Linked DNA regions of Homo sapiens. The protein of the gene in region 1 interacts with the protein of each later gene in a pairwise test. Each region holds a gene or a part of one and is shown on either strand. Other genes may lie near its edges.

What was found. Proteins that work in one complex are often made in the same cells at the same time.
Region 2: the proteins of ZBTB32 (region 1) and RHOXF2 interact in binary tests that used the Homo sapiens proteins (3 or more experiments, as listed by UniProt).

What each region holds. Positions count from the first base shown.
Region 1 is NC_000019.10:35,702,962-35,706,716, reverse strand, and holds the start of ZBTB32 (zinc finger and BTB domain-containing protein 32), read right to left. Parts: upstream 2,160-3,755; 5' UTR 2,094-2,159; intron 1-2,093. UniProt on the Homo sapiens protein: DNA-binding protein that binds to the to a 5'-TGTACAGTGT-3' core sequence. May function as a transcriptional transactivator and transcriptional repressor. Probably exerts its repressor effect by preventing GATA3 from binding to DNA.
Region 2 is NC_000023.11:120,163,765-120,166,178, reverse strand, and holds the end of RHOXF2 (rhox homeobox family member 2), read right to left. Parts: coding exon 2,392-2,414; 3' UTR 549-2,391; downstream 1-548. UniProt on the Homo sapiens protein: Transcription factor maybe involved in reproductive processes. Modulates expression of target genes encoding proteins involved in processes relevant to spermatogenesis.

The DNA of each region.
Region 1 (3,755 bases):
CAGAGTTTTGCCCTTGTTGCCCAGGCTGGAGTGCAGTGGCGCGATCTCGGCTCACTGCAACCTCTGCCTCCTGGGTTCAAGTGATTCTCCTACCTCAGGCTCCTAAGTAGCTGGGATTACAGGCATCTACCATGCCCGGCTAATTTTTTGCATTTTTAGTAGAGATGGGGTTTCACCACGTTGGCCAGGCTGGTCTTGAACTCCTGACCTCAGGTGATCCACCTGCCTCGGCCTCCCAAAGTGCTAGGATTACAGGTGTGAGCCACCACGCCCTGCCAAAAACCTGGGTGATTTCCTAAAGAGGAGAATATCTCACACACCTCTTCCTGTGCTCCACTACGATGTTCATCCTCCCCATGCACCTGCCCCGCACCTACAGCCTGATATCTTCATCTTCTAGGAATTATCAGAACAGGCATGGGAAAGAGTGGGACAGGGAGAATGAAAAGCTCCAGACATGACCCAATTCCAGTTTTTTTTTTTTTTTTGAGATGGAGTTTCGCTCTTGTTGCCCAGGCTGGAGTGCAATGGCACGATCTCGGCTCACCGCAACCTCCGCCTCCCAGGTACAAGCGATTCTCCTGCCTCAGCCTCCCTAGTAGCTGGGATTACAGGCATGTGCCACCACGCCCAGCTAATTTTGTATTTTTAGTAGAGATGGGGTTTCTCCATGTTGGTCATGCTGGTCTCAAACTTCTGACCTCAGGTAATCCGCCCGCCTTGGCCTCTCAAAGTGCTGGGATTATAGATGTGAGCCCCCACGCCTGGCCCTGCTTTTTTTTTTTTTTAATTAATTTTTTTTTTTTGAGACAGAGCATTGCTCTGTTGCCCAGGCTGGAGTGCAGTGGTGCGATCTCTGCTCACTGCAACCTCCGCCTCGTGGGTTCAAGGGATTCTCCTGCCTCAGACTCCTGAGTAGCTGGGATTACAGGCACCTGCCACCACACCTGGCTAATTTTTGTATTTTTAGTAGAGACAGGGTTTCACCATGTTGGTCAGGCTGGTCTCGAGCTCCTGACCTGGTGATCCACCCACCTCAGCCTCCCAAAGTGCTGGGATTACAGGTGTGAGCCACCACGCCTGGCCACCCAATCCCAGTTCTGTACAGAGCCACCACAAGGCAATAATACTTCATCCAGCGCAAACAGCTCGGCTGGGATTCAGAATCCTTCTCCCTAGAATCTCCAGAGGATTACTGGCCTAACCTCTTGGCCACATCATCCAACCTGGACTCCATACTGGGAAATCTGCCAAGAACATCTCAACCTGGAGTCCAGAACATTCACTCCCAGCCCAGGCTGGCTCCAAAGACCCCAGGAAACCTTCATGTGCACACTAGTTTCATCTCTTGGCCAGTGACTTCCTACATAACTTTTTTTTTCTTTTCATTTTTTTTCTTGAGACAGGGTCTCATTCTGTCGCCCAGGCTGGAGTGCAATGGCGTGATCTCAGCTCACTGCAACGTTCATCTCCTGAGTTCAATGAGTTCAAGCGATTCTCCTGCCTCAGCTTTCTGAGTAGCTGGGATTACGGACGTGTGCCACCACGCCCAGGTAATTTTTTTTAGAAACCCCGTAGAGACAGGGTTTCTCCATGTTGGCCAGGCTGGTCTCAAACTCCTGACCTCAAATGATCCACCTGCCTCAGCCTCCCAAAGTGCTGGGATTACAGGCGTGAGCCACCGCGCCCAGCCCCTGCATAACCTTTGGAGATCCACAGGCCTCTCCTTTCAGTCACCGGATCCAGGCTCAGTCCAGAGACCCTTGATAAGCTCTCATTGTCCGGAGGCCATACCTCATGCAGAGTTAAGGACCTCCAACTTCCCCACAACACCCTTCCTACTCAGGCTGGCCTCGGGGGCCGTGGACCAACTCAGAGAGCAAGCTGGCTTAGCCTCTGCCAAACCTAGGCCTAAAGGTGGCCAGGAGGCTGCATTTCCAGCCTCTCAAAGGCAGAGGAAAGCCCCAAGGGCTAAAGCCCTCAACCCGCACTTCCCAATCATCAACGAGGTCCAGTCAAGCCCCCATACCCCAGATTTGCCTGGGCCGGGCCCAAGCCCAAGAAAGTAAAGTAAGAAAAACTATGGCACTCACCGGCCCAGACCCTGTTCCTCCTTCCCTTTCAGCCTCACATACACCCAGGACGGCTTAAGGCCGAGTGACCGTTAAAAGTGGGGAATGGAGCGAGGCCAGGGACGCAACGCTCCCGCACGTGGTCACCCCTGGATCCTGAGGCGGACGCTGATTGGCTGCAGCGCGGGCCGCATTCTCCCGCTCAGGCCAGCTGAGCACGCTGGGCAGCCTGGGAGGCACCTAGGACAGCGCCACTCCCGCGCGTCTGCCTCGGACCCGCAGCTGATTGGCTGTGAAGGGGCAGAGCCTTGAGTCTCATTGGTCCATAGGCTTCAGGCCTCTTAGGCTGAGATTTCATTGATTTCCAGCCGGGCCCCAGCGTTGATCTGCTGTGGAGTCTGCCTTTTCCCACTCTCTCCACGAAGAGACTGGACCCTGATTCTCCTTCACCTGAACAGCCCTGGAGGCTCCCTCAGCAAGTGCTCAGGAGTACTACTGTCCTTTTTTTTTTTTTTTTTTTTGAGACAGAGTCTCGCTCTGTCGCCCAGGCTGGAGTGCAGTGGCGCGATCTCTGCTCACTGCAAGCTCCGACTCCCGGGCTCACACCATTCTCCTGCCTTAGCCTCCCAAGTAGCTGGGACTACAGGCGCCCGCCATCACGCCCGGCTAATTTTTTGTACATTTAGTAGAGATGGGGTTTCACCATGTTAGCCAGGATGGTCTCGATCTCCTGACCTCGTGATCCACTCGCCTCGGCCTCCCAAAGTGCTGGGATTACAGGCGTGAGCCACCACGCCCGGCTTTTTAAAAAATTATTATTTCATTTTTATTTTATGAACGGGGTCTCCCTCTGTTGCCGGTGCTGGGGTGCAATGGTGCAATCATAGCTCACTGCAGCCTCGAACTCCTGGGCTCAAGCAATCCTTCCACCTGGGCCTCCCAAAATTCTGGAACTACAGCCGTGAGACACCGTGCCTGACCTGCCTTTCTTGCTTCTATTTTGCCACCCTAAGTAGCTCCCATTTGCAAACCCTGTCACCTTTCTCTCAACCCTTTACCATCTGTGAGGTGTGTAGGGGGTGTGTAGGCTGCCGCCACACCTGATTGGCTGGGAGGCCCGTAAGAGCAAGCCAAGGCCAGGCACGGTGGCTCATGCCCGTAATCCCAGGGCTTTGAGAGGTCCAGGTGGTAGTAGGATCGCTTGAGCCCAGGAGGTCGAGGCTGCAGTGAGCTATGATCACACCACTGCACTGCAGCCTGGGCGACACAGTGAGGCCCTGTCTCTAATAAATAAATAAAAATAAAATAAAAGAGCCAGCCAGGCAGGGCACGGTGGCTCACGCCTGAAAACCCAGCACTTTGGGAGGCCGAGGAGGGCGGATCACCTGGGGTCAGGAGTTCGAGATCAGCATGACCAACATGGTGAAACCCCGTCTCTACTAAAAATACAAAAATTAGCTGAGCGTGGTGGCGGGCGCCTGTAATTCCAGCTACTCGGCAGGCTGAGGCAGGGGAATCGCTTGAACCCCGGGAGGCGGAGATTGCAGGGAGCCTATATCGCGCCACTGCACTCCAGCCTGGGAGACAGAGCGAGACGGCGTCTCAAAAAAAAAAAGAGCCAGCCAGGCTTCGGTGCCTGTGAACAGCTCCCTTTTCTCTCTTGTCCCACTCCACCACGATTGC
Region 2 (2,414 bases), on another chromosome or scaffold:
GTAGGTTAAGCGACTCATTCAAGGTAACAAAGACAGCGTAGAGCTGCAGCAAGAACCCAGACCACCTTATTTTTAATCAGATCTCTTTCTGTTATACCACATAGGAAAGGTGGAACAACAGGTTATAATAATATGATGATAGGAGATAATATAGAATAATAGTAGAAAACATTTCTGTGTGCTTACTCTGGCTGGGCATTGTGGAAGGCCACTTACATATGTTATTTATCCCTCTCATCAATTCTGTGATATAATATTATCATCTTATAGAGAATAATAATGATACTACAGAGCTTAAGTAAAATGCCCAGGGGGAAACAGCTGGGAAGTGGTGCATCTGGGATTGGAAGCCAGATTGCCCTAACTGTGGCATCCCAGTGCACCACCGCTGAATTAAACTTGACAAAGCATGGGCTCTGGAGGCAGACAAATTTGGCTTCAGATCCTGTTCCTCTGATTAGCTTTGCACCATGGATAAGTTTCCTCTTCTTTCAATGAAGATGCTAGAACCTCACTATTAGGATTCATTTGAGCATCAAACAAAATCATCCAAGGACATTATTTTATTGCTTGTCACATAGTAAAGGCATACAAGACGTTAGCTGCTAATAAAAAGGGAATGAAAGTTTTAAAGGGTACTGTCTCCAGTAATGTTCTCCATCAGAAAAAATTGTAACTTGTTCTCCACCCAGCCCCTTGAACTAGTCCCATTGTATGCTACCTAAACAATGTGTTGTTCAAGGTCAGTAAATGACATCCTAACTATAATTCTACGAATTTGAATTTCTTAAGGTCCAAGAACTCTGCTTTGAAGTTCAGGATCTAGGTTACCAGAGCTAGACAACATCTTGACCTATAATTCTAACAGGTACTTATCAGATACATGAAAACAAATGCCAACTGAGTATAGGAGATCTCATTTTCTACATAAAGGAAACATATATGGCTAAAAATGTCTTTTGATGGTGTAAAAATTTTATGAATCTGATAACCACGGGGAGGGATAATGGAAGTATGATTTCAATCTCCCCTCCTCCCCTTTTACCTTTCTTTGCCTATTTCTGAGTATCTCTAGGCTACCAAATGTTTCAGTCTGAATGTAGAAAAAACAAAATAATGAGCAGGAATAGACCGACTGGCACAAAATGTACCAAATGGAAACAATTTCCAGACGGAATGTACACTGACATGCGCGACTTACTGTAAATAATTATACAAAGCACAATACAATGAGAACAAGAGCAAAAAAAAAAAAAAAAAAAAAAAAGGAAAATCTCAATCGGAGAAGAAAAAAGAATCCACTTGGCCAAGAGGCATGCATTAATGCATAGTGAATTCATGGACTTTCCTTATTCCCACCAAGGCTTGTGGCTTCAGGGGTATGAATAAACCTCCTTCTCCTTGCAAAACCCTCACACCAAATGCAATTGCGTGGCTGAAGCTTGACACCCACAATTGTGAAGAGAGAAGTGGGGAATGAAAAGCAGCAGACAGCCTGACAGAAAGTTCATGCTCACCCAAGAAAATGGAATTTTCCTTCAGGCTGAAAACATAATCATTATGAAACTGGCCATCAAATAATTTTCAGAGAAAATACTGTTGTAACCATCACTCCTTATCTGCAGGCATTGCAATCACTTCACAGGATGACCACAATGTTCATGATCACTTTTTAAAAACTTTTTGGTATATTTTTTCTTTTCTTTTGTTGTGGTAAACCATATAAAAATTTGCCATTTTAGCCATTAAATAAGTGTATAATTTCATGGCATTATTTACACTTACACTTTTACAAGAAAATTACTTTAAAGAAGTCTTCCATAGCAAGAAAAAACTTAATGAATTTTTAAGAGTGGGCATGGCTTCCTTCCCGATACCATTTTGGTTTTGCTGTTTTCCACCCTGGCAGTAACTTGAAACACACTATTCTCTCATTAGGGACTCACACCACCCCATCCTGCACATGTACCTGGTATCAATGGGGGCAGAGAGGAGATGAGTATGGGGTGTTGGGGGTGGGGGTGGAAGAGAATGTCTGGGTCGGTGTAAGCCTGCCATGGGCACATGGGAAAATTCTGTGACATGCACAGCCCCCAGATGGTGACTCAAGATTACTGCATGAGACGAGAGTCCGTGACATTCGGTTTGAATGGCATTTCTTAACAATTTTTATTGAGAACTTACTGACCCCATGTGACACACAAAACAAATGTACATACCCTTCACATATTTATAGAAACATTTTTACAAGTGCCCTAAAAATGGGTCAATGATGTACTTTTCTTTAAAACGTTTAATAGACATTTGATGAACTACTTTTGATGGGGTGCTATGCAAAATATGAATCTGGCTCAAAGACACTCTGGCAAAAAGTGGCACAGAGGCTATCCCTTAGACATTGGGGAATGTGAAAG